Linked DNA regions of Homo sapiens: region 1 is linked to region 2. A link means that fine-mapping ties the variant in region 2 to the expression of a gene that starts in the linked region. Tissue or cell type: lung. Region 2 holds a variant in brackets; the other region holds the start of a gene. All regions are shown on one strand. Distances are from middle to middle.

The links. PIP is the estimated chance that this variant, and not a neighbour inherited with it, causes the effect.
Region 1: ENTPD5 starts here. The variant in region 2 is fine-mapped to the expression of ENTPD5 in lung (TOPMed, PIP 0.92).

What each region holds. Positions count from the first base shown.
Region 1 is chr14:74,016,571-74,021,764 of GRCh38, forward strand. It overlaps ENTPD5 (ectonucleoside triphosphate diphosphohydrolase 5 (inactive)), which reads right to left and starts at 2,718. Exons shown (of 16, transcript NM_001249.5): 1 at 2,680-2,718. It overlaps BBOF1 (basal body orientation factor 1), which reads left to right and starts at 2,779. Exons shown (of 12, transcript NM_025057.3): 1 at 2,779-2,964. The coding sequence starts at 2,909. RefSeq lists silencers at 2,076-2,370, 2,286-2,355, 2,396-2,535, 2,546-2,615, 2,646-2,895 and an enhancer at 5,176-5,194.
Region 2 is chr14:73,954,261-73,959,260 of GRCh38, forward strand. It overlaps COQ6 (coenzyme Q6, monooxygenase), which reads left to right. Exons shown (of 12, transcript NM_182476.3): 3 at 1,191-1,249; 4 at 1,545-1,668; 5 at 3,887-4,017; 6 at 4,711-4,818; 7 at 4,902-4,964. It also overlaps a transcript of ENTPD5 not described here. Among named protein-coding and RNA genes, the nearest start is that of COQ6, 6.5 kb to the left of the region's middle. The variant A/T (reference allele first, on the strand shown) is at 2,841.

The DNA of each region.
Region 1 (5,194 bases), 62 kb after region 2:
AGCTGTAATGAGCCATGATCCTGCCACTGTACTCCAGCATGGTTAAGAGTAAGACCCTATCTCAAAAAAACCATCAAAAAACCCAAAAACCAATAAAAGAAACTATAAAGTACTATAACTAAGGTACTACGCATACATTAATAATCTTGTTATAGTCAAATTTTTATGTTCATACATTAATCTGTAAGCCTATGTTCAAATGAGGAGTCTTGGACTGACTTTCATATTATAAAGTTACCAATTTCTAGAATAAATTCCAAATATACAGCCTGTGACAGAAGATGCCCTACTCTCTTTTCTGCAGCTTATCAACAGTGTGCTTTTTCAGAACCTTACACATACAAAATTAATGGTAACTTTATAGATTTTACATCAGAGATAAACTCTTCAATATATGGCGATTCCGCCTATGGACTCACGGGAGTGTGAAAGTATACCAGAAATACACTCAGAAAAAGCTATGATCGGCCAGGCGTGGTGGCTCACGCCTGTAATCCCAGTACTTTGGTAGGCCGAGGCGGGCGGATCACCTGAGGTTGGAAGTTCGAGACTAGCCTGACCAAAATGGAGAAACCCCGTGTCTACTAAAATTACAAAAGTAGCCGGGCATGGTGGCGCATGCCTGGATTCCCAGCTACTCGGGAGGCTGAGGCAGGAGAATTGCTTGAACCTGGGAGGTGGAGGCTGCGGTGGGCCGAGATCGTGCTATTGCACTCCAGCCTGGGAAACAAGAGCGAAACTCCATCTCAAAAAAAAAGAAAAGAAAAAGCCATGATCATGCTGGCAGATGGTATGTATAATAAGGTTTACGCCAGCCTGACCAACATGGAGAAACCCTGTCTCTACTAAAAATACAAAATTAGCCAGGGATGGTGGTGTGTGCCTGTAATCCCAGCTACTCGGGAGGCTGAGGCAGGAGAATCGCTTGAACTGGGAGGTGGAGGTTGCGGTGAGCCGAGATCGTGCCATTGCACTCCAGCCTGGGCAACAAGAGCAAAACTCTGTCTCAAAAAAAAAAAAAAAAAATTTTACAGCCGGGGGCGGTGGCTCATGCCTGTAAATCTCAACACTTTGGGAGACCAAGGCGGGTGGATCACCTGAGGCCAGGAGTTCAAGACCAGCCTGGCTAGCATGGTGAAACTCTGTCTCTACCAAAAATACAAAAATTAGCCTGGCATGGTGGCACGCACCTATAGTCTGTTACTGGGGAGGCTGAGGCAGGAGAATTGCTTGAACCCGGGAGGCAGAGGTTGTGGTGAGCCGAGATTGCGCCATTGCACTCCAGCCTAGGCAACAAGAGCAAAACTCTTGTCTCAAAAAAAAGGTTTACAGCCGGGGCGGTGGCCCACGCCTGTAATCTCAACACTTTGGGAGGCCGAGGCAGGTGGATCACCTGAGGCCAGGAGTTCGAGACCAGCCTGGCCAGCATGGTGAAACTCCATCTCTACCAAAAATACAAAAATTAGCCGGGTGTGGTGGCATGCACCTGTAGTCCCACTTACTGGGGAGGCTGAGGCAGGAGAATCGCTTGAACCAAGGAGGTGGAGGTTGCAGGGAGCCGAGATGCCCCACTGCACTCCAGCCTGGGTGACAGAAGACTCTCTCTCAGAAAAAAAAAAAAAAAAGTTTACAAGGCTTATCATTACCAAATCGGCATGTTCCCTCAGAAGAAACAGAAATTCAGAAACAGAAACTATGCAAGTGGGAAACAAGGCGGAGGGGAGTAATTAGAGGTCAAAGACATCGGGAAGGAGTGTACGGATTAAGTCCTCCCTAGAGAAATGGTGACGAAGGATCTACAACCACATTTAAAATAAACTTTTTAATTTGAAATGGAGTATAACAGAGCAGAGCTTCAACCACAAGTCTCCTAACTATTGGCTTGGCACTCAGAATACCGTACCTTCCTTAATGACTCACTGACTGACTCTCATTGAAAAATGAGAATACTTGTGAGTACACTCCTTTTCAGAGGTGTATTCGGGATTTCAGGAGTCGGGGAGGCAAGTTGAAGAGCTTCCAACTTTATGCAACTTTCAGGAAAGAAGGCTGCGGACCGGTATTAGCAAATGGAAATCCGGGGGGCGGTCGTGGGCAGGAAGTATCGGCCACACAGGACCTAGTGAGGCCGAGGACCCTGCTCCCGACCTCGGTGGCAGCACTCCCCTCCCCGCCCGGCTCCCTGGCGTGCCGCTGCTCTTCGGAGGCTGGCAGCCTCGCCCTCAACCACCGCCCTCGGGAAAGTCCTCGACTGCCTATCAAAAAACATTTGGCCTGGGACGTCCGCTGGCTGCACTATCCCTTACAGAATCAGCAAGGGTGAAAAGCCAGGAAAGAGATGCAACCCAAAGGAGTAAGGCAGTGCCGGGAGCGGCAGAAGCGGAGCGGGGGCGAGGGCAAGGTAGCCGCGGCCACGCTGGCTGCGGCATGGAGACACGGGAGGAACGGGACCCGCGGGCGGCACGGGAAAGGGCTGCGGCTCAGACCACTGCGGCGGGACGGGCGGATCAGCGGGGATCTAAGTCTCCTGAGGCAAGGGCGCCCCGACCGCAGCGACTCCTGACACACCCAGGCCGCAGGACGAAGCGCTACCGCCTGGGGCTGCCAGCTCCCGCCTCCCGCCCGCAGAGCCCGGGCCCCACGTAGAGGATCCGGCGCCGCCGACACTCGCACACTCACCGCGCGCGCGCCACCCTTGCGCGGCAGCCCGCCGCCCTCGGCGCGACCTCCGCCCCACCCCGCGCGCCGCGGCGCCTGGGCTACGTCACGGGCGCGTGCGCTCTCCGCGCGCCGTCAGCGGCGCGGGTGGGGCATTGCCAGCTCGGCGTCCCGGTTCCCTTGGAGACAGAGCTGGCCAGGGCGGCCGCGGCTGGGCAACTACGACAGCGGAGCCCCTGGGGAAGCCAAGATGCCGTCGAAGGGAAAGGACAAAAAGAAAGGCAAGAGCAAAGGCAAAGACACGAAGTAAGGAGAAGCCACCCGAGAGTCCCCTCTCCCTGGGCCTGCCTGGGATTTCGGGTCTGGGGCTGGCAACCTGGCGCCCCCCGCGCCGGCCCACTCGGACCCTCTCCCCGGCTCTCCCGGCTTGTGAGGATTACAGCTCCCATGTCCATAGTCTGGCAGATCTCTACTATGTGTTCAGATTATCTTAAACGTGTAGAGGATGTATAAAGTAGTTCCTTGGGCCTTTTCAGAGATCTCTTTTGGTTCAAAGGGGACACCTAAAGTATTTTACCAAGTTGGATAATTATTGAGGTTTTCCCAAACTGATCAGAGCCACTGAGGTGGGTAATGTTCTAGCACTAACCCCTTACAGGCCTGGAGTTGCTGCTAGATTGCTACTAGCCCTATTGGGGGACCCCGGTGGTTTCTGGACACGTTGGAGTCATACGTGGTGTCCAGCAACAACACCATATATGGGAACACAGAGTTGGCACCAAACTTGAGATGTTTGTAAAGTAACTTAAGAGAGTAATTCATGCTCAATACAGAAAGTTTGGGAAACATGGGAAGTACCAAAAGAAAAAACAAAAATCACCTGTAGTCTCATTATCCAAAAATAAACACTACTATATTTTGGAGTATTCTTTTTTAATAAAACGATAGCCCAATGTACATACTTATATGTGGCTTTTTTCTTCCCATTTGTTAATGTAAGTATTCTTTTATGGTATTTTTTTTTTGTTTTTACATAACTGCACAGTTAGTCTAGCCCTTAAAGTGCCAAGGGCTTATCACATTCCTAGAACTCACTAACATATGTTTTCAGATTTTGACCATGCTTCTACAGTACACATTTGAACAATGAGGAACACTAAGGGTAAGAGACCTTATTCCTTGGATTTTCCATGACCCATTGTTTGAGAAACCTGGCTTTGTTTCTACAGTGAGTATCAGTGGTCCTATTAGAGTGTCTAATTTCTTGCATCAAGTACTTTTTTTTTTTTCTTGACACCAAGTTTTGCTCTTGTTGCCCAAGCCGGAGTGCAATGGCACGATCTCAGCTCACTGCAACCTCTGCCTTCTGGGTTCAACCAATTCTCCTGCCTCAGCCTCCCGAGTAGCTGTGATTACAGGCACCCGTCACCACGCCCAGCTAATTTTTTTATTTTTAGTGGAGACAGGGTTTCACCATGTTGGCCAGGCTGGTCTCGAACTCCTGACTTCAGGTGATCCACCCGCCTCGGCCTCCCAAAGTGCTGGGATGACAGCCGTGAGCCACCATGCCCTGTCGCATCAAGTACTTCGAGCCACTCAGACCTGATACCTGGATGGTCGTAGTGAGACAGTGTATCACTAGTGCCTAAATCATGCCAGAAAGGGACATCAACAGCTATAACAGGCTGAGGGGTTGGGAATGGAGCTGGCCTTAATTTGAAGAGAACAAAAGGTGAAAGTGGGACTTTGGTTCTCTCCACTGCAAACCCATTACCTCTGTGGAAGAGGACTGAGAACCAGAGGTAGGAAAGTGGATGTGGAGGGTGGCAGTATAGAAAGGTCCACATGTACATATGTGTGAAAATATTTAGAATTCAAATACAGGTGAAATATTCTTAAATATGTACATATTTATATATCATGGTACCTACCATATATAAGGGGGAGTGTTTTGTTAATGCTTATACAATAAATATTTAGAAAAATCTCTTCCTTTACCACTTTAATCTTTGAATCCATCCTTTTTCCTCTCCACCTCTATATAAATGATTATGGTTTCTCAGGCATCCTTAAAGCCCGGTGGGTGGGGCATCGTGGCTCATGCCCAGCACTTTGGGAGGCTGAGCAGGGGAAGATCACTTGAGCCCAGGAGTTCAAGACCAGCCTGAACAACATAGGAAGACCCTGTCTCTACAAAAATTTTTATTAAAAATTAGTTGGGCATGCTAACTCATGCCTGTAGTCACAGTTACTTAGGAGGCTGAGGTGGAGGATCGTTTGGGCCTGGGAGGTTGAGGCTGCAGTGAGCTGTGATGGTGCTACTGCACTACAGCCTGGATGACAGAGCAAGATCTTGTTTCAAAAAAAAAAAAAAAGTCCGGTGAACTGTGGCACCAGCTGATAAACTATTTAACGTATTTGCCCTAGTGACTTGACTTTTTGTCCAAGACCTAGCCCAAAACAAAACAAAACAAAAACACCATCCTGGCTAACACGGTGAAACCCCGTCTCTACTGAAAATACAAAAAATTAGCCG
Region 2 (5,000 bases):
TATTTCCTCAATGAATAAATCTGTTCAGTGCTATGAAGAGCTAAAAAATAGAACATAGGCCAGGCACAGTCATGTGTACCTATAGTCCTGGCCACTTGGAAGGCTGAGATGGGAGGATTGCTTGAGCCCAGGAGTTTAAGTCTAGCCTGGGCAACATACCAAGACCTTGTATCTTGAAAAAGAAAAAACAAATGGTTTCAAGTTACTAGAAATCCTTTGTAAAAATAATTTTTTAAAAATTGTCTTTACGAGGTTTATAACTTCAGCAGGATGATGAAGAAAAAGAACAATATGGATTTGGGGCCGGGTGCGGTGGCTCACGCCTGTAATCTCAGCACTTTGGGAGGCTGAGGCAGGCGGATCACAGGGTCAGGCGATCGAGATCATCCTGGCTAACACGGTGAAACCCTGTCTCTACTAAAAATACAAAAAAATGAGCCGGGCATGGCGGCGGATGCCTGTAGTCCCAGCTGCTGGGGAGGCTGAGACAGGAGAATAGGGTGAACCCGGGAGGCGGAGCTTGCAGTGAGCCGAGATCCCGCCACTGCACTCCAGCCTGGGCTACAGAGCGAGATTCCGTCTCAAAAAAAAAAAAAAAAAAATACATGGATTTGGTTTTCGTTTTTAATTTCCCCTACTTTATGTGATTTGACCTTTTGATCATGGAAGCTGAGTCTTTTTTTTTTTTATTTTATTTTTTTTTTTTTTTGAGACGGAGTCTCGCTCTGTTGCCCAGGCTGGAGTGCAGTGGCACGATCTCGGCTCACTGCAAGCTCCGCCTCCCGGGTTCAGGCCATTCTCCTGCCTCAGCCTCTCCAAGTAGCTGGGACTACAGGCGCCCGCCACCACGCCCAGCTGATTTTTTGTATTTTTTAGTGAAGATGAGGTTTCACGGTGTTAGCCAGGATGGTCTCTATCTCCTGATCTCGTGATCCGCCCGCCTCAGTCTCCCAAAGTGCTGGGATTACAGGCATGAGCCACCGCGCCCGGCAGAAGCTGGGTCTTTTTTCATGCTATACAACCTGGAACTGGGGAACAGAGTAGCTTAGGTACTAACATCAAACAAGATAGAAGTGGAGAGTATTATTGAAGAACACTGAAAACAACCTCTTACGTAACAGGATGGAGGGACAAGGGGGAGCCCAGGTCCTTGTGAAGTCACTCTGGTCTATAGATCCTTTCTTTTGTAGGTTTTGGTGCCTGGGACCATATCTGCAACATGAGATACAGAGCCTTTCGGCGAATGCAGGTGCCCCTTTATCTTTTCAATTTTGTCAAGATGTCTTGGTCTGTCTTAAGATATCGGAGTCCACTTTCTCCAAGTGTTCTGTGAATGTAGGAGGAATCAGACAAGGTTCACATTCAGTCCGAGGAAGTGGGGAGAAGCATTCCCAGGAGAATTTTCTTCTCATTTTATATTTTCCTACCAGAGAGGCTGACAAATTGTGATTTTCTGCTCTGTCACTTGGGAAAGCAATATTGTTTCTGATTGGAGTGATGTTTCCCTCTTGGTTTTAATGCAGACTTTCCTTTTGTGTTTCCAGGTGTGGGACGCCTGCTCAGAGGCCCTGATAATGTTTGATAAGGATAATTTAGATGACATGGGCTATATCGTGGAGAATGATGTCATCATGCATGCTCTCACTAAGCAGTTGGAGGCTGTGTCTGGTGAGGCCCCCATCTTCCACCTTGCATTCATTGGGAAGTGAACTGCTTAGGACTTACTGGAAGAAAGGATCTCTTTTACAATATTCAGTGTCCACCATAAAGAAATCCTCTGATGGCCGGGTGCGGTGGCTCACGCCTGTAATCCCAGCACTTTTGGAGGCTAAGGCGGGCGGATCACGAGGTCAGGAGATGGAGACCATCCTGGCTAACATGGTGAAACCCTGTCTCTACTAAAAATACAAAGAAACAATTAGCCAGGCATGGTGGCGGGCGCCTATAGACCCAGCTACTTGGGAGGCTGAGGCAGGAGAATGGCGTGAACCCAGGAGGTGGAGCTTGCAGTGAGCCGAGATCACGCCACTGCACTCCAGCCTGGGCGACAGAGCAAGACTCCGTCTCAAAAAAAAAAAAAAAATTCCTCTGATGATTATTTCACGGTGCTGGATACTTAGAAGTGGAATTGCTGGGTCATATAATAATTCTATGTTTAATATTTTCAGAAGCTGCCAAACTTTTCTGAAGAGGCTATACAATTTCACTTTCCCACCAGTCTATAAGGGTTCCAGTTTCTCCACATCCTCACCAACGCTTATTTTCCTTCTGTAAAAAAAAACTGTAGCCATCCTGTTGAGAGTGAAGTTGTATCTCATTGTAGTAGTGGTTGCATTTCCTTAATAACTAATGATGCTGAGTATCTTTTCATGTCCTTACTGGCCATTTGTGTATCCACTTTGGAGAAATGTCTGTTCAAAATATTTTGCCTGTTTTTAAATTGGATTATTTGTTTTTGAGTTATAGGAGTTCTTTATATATTTTAAATATAAATTTATCAGTTATGCGGCTTGCAAATATCTTAATGTTCTAGAGAGAGAAAAATTGGAAGTAACTTAAATGCTTTTTGATATTGGATAGTAGTTCATGCAGTGAACCATGATGTAGCTTTTAAAGATAATTTGAATCTAAAATTTAATAACTTATAAATTTGTTCCATAATATATTGGGTCATATGATCACACTTGTGTGTGCATGTACATGCATAGGAAATTGTCTGGAAAGTCATACACCAAAGCTGTAATTGCAGTTGTCTCTGAGTAGTTTAAGGGTGATTTTTCTCCACTTGAACCTTTCTTTGTTGTCCAGACTTCTACAGCGAGCTTATTATTATTATTATT[A/T]TTTTTTTTTTTTTGGAGATGGAGTCTCGCTCTGTCGCCCAGGCTGGAGTGCAGTGGCACAGTCTCGGCTCACTGCAAGCTCGGCCTCCCAGGTTCACACCATTCTCCTGCCTCAGCCTCTGGAGTAGCTGGGACTATAGGCGCCTGCCACCGTGCCCAGCTAATTATTTGTATTTTTAGTAGAGATGGGGTTTCACCGTGGTCTCAATCTCCTGACCTCGTGATCCACCCACCTCGGCCTCCCAAAGTGCTGGGATTACAGGCGTAAGCCACTGTGCTGGCCCTCTATTATTTAAATCGCTTTGTTGACAGTATGACTGACTGACATACAAAAAGCTGTAAATGATGTATACAGGCTGATGTTTTTGGAGATAGTGTTTTGTTTTGTTTTGAGACAAGGTCTTGCTTTGTCCTCCTTGGCTGGGGTGCAGTGGCTTAACAATCCTCTCACCTCAGCCTCCTGACTAACTGGGACGACAGGTGCGCACCATCACGCCTGGTTAATTTTTTGTAAAGATGGGGTTTTACCATGTTGCTCAGGCTGGTCTTGAACTCCTGGGCTCAAGTGATCCTCCTGCCTCAGCCTCCCTAAGTTCTAGGATTACGAGCATGAGCCACCCGTGCCTGGCCATAGAGCGTATTGTTTTTATGACCAGAAAAATAAAATGATTTCCAGCTGGAAGAAAATCTTTTGTAGTCTAGGATTTGTTTCAGCCTATGGTATTCCCAGCCTGTCTACTGTAAAAGCAAACACGGGCTCATTTAAGCGTAGAGTGAAAATGGAGGCGCAGAAGCATGTGGACAGTAAGAAAGAGTGCCTCTGACAGAGTTCACTGAGAACTTCAATGTCTTTTTTTGACATTGAGTTATCTCTGTGGCTTCTGTCATTTATTAGCTCAGACCACAGCATTAATTACTGATTTTTTTAATCTTAAATGACAAGACACTGCTGTCCTGGGACCTTGCTTTAGGTTTAGTTATGGCTTTTTCCTCAGCCTATGTGGCCCACCTTTCTAATTTTTTTTCCTCTCTTTTGACCTCCCCAGACCGAGTGACGGTTCTCTACAGGAGCAAAGCCATTCGCTATACCTGGCCTTGTCCATTTCCTATGGCCGACTCCAGCCCTTGGGTTCATATTACCCTAGGTGATGGCAGCACCTTCCAGACCAAATTGTTGGTAGTTGAAGATTCTTATTTTGCTAGGGGTCTTGTATATCTACATCTTATCCTAGATTCTAGGGACTCTGGTTTTCGATTTAAGCTATAGTTTAATTTTAGGCAAAACTTTTGGTTATGAGGACCAGTACCTATTCAGGCCAGCTCAAGTGGAGATGGTCTCATCGTAAATCCTGTACAGGGAGCAATCTCATGGGCCGTCTTAGGTTGTGAAATAACAGATAGCTGGGCCTCACAGGACAGGCACCAGAGTGTTGGGAATGGAGGCTGTTCTTTCCCTCTGAGGAGTCTGTGGTCATTGATCTCTTGCCTCTCATTTTTCTCCTTTCTGCTCACAAGCTTCCCTTTTTGCATGGTAGCCATTCCTAACCCTACATCAGAACTATTCAGCTCCAGTGTGTGCCCCATACTGAAACTTTCCTTATTGCTCTCTAGTTCAAATATCAGGAGGGCCTGGCTGAGTTTAACTCATGGCTGGCACCTGTTCAGTCATGTCCAGCTTTGGCTCTGTTGGCTGAGGCTGATGTGACAGTGCAGGGGCTCCACCTCTAGGGGCTGTGAGTGAAGCAGGCCTGATGGAATTATCCTGCCACACAACAATCAGAGCTGGAGGAAACTTTAGGGAGCAGAGAAAAACTTCTGAAGCAGTTTATGAAGAGGCTGGAAGACTTAGCAGGCTCATGTGTCCATGCAGATAGGTGCAGATGGTCACAACTCCGGAGTACGGCAGGCTGTTGGAATCCAGAATGTGAGCTGGAACTATGACCAGTCTGCTGTTGTGGCTACTCTGCATTTATCAGAGGTAAGATCCTGAGCTGCCATCTGGGGACTTTATTCATAGGCACTAGGTACTTCACAGAGAAACTTTTCTCCTCTCTGTTGCAGGCCACAGAAAACAACGTAGCCTGGCAGAGATTTCTTCCCTCTGGGCCTATTGCTCTGCTCCCGGTAAGAGGTCCTTCTGACCAGTCCGCCCACATGCAT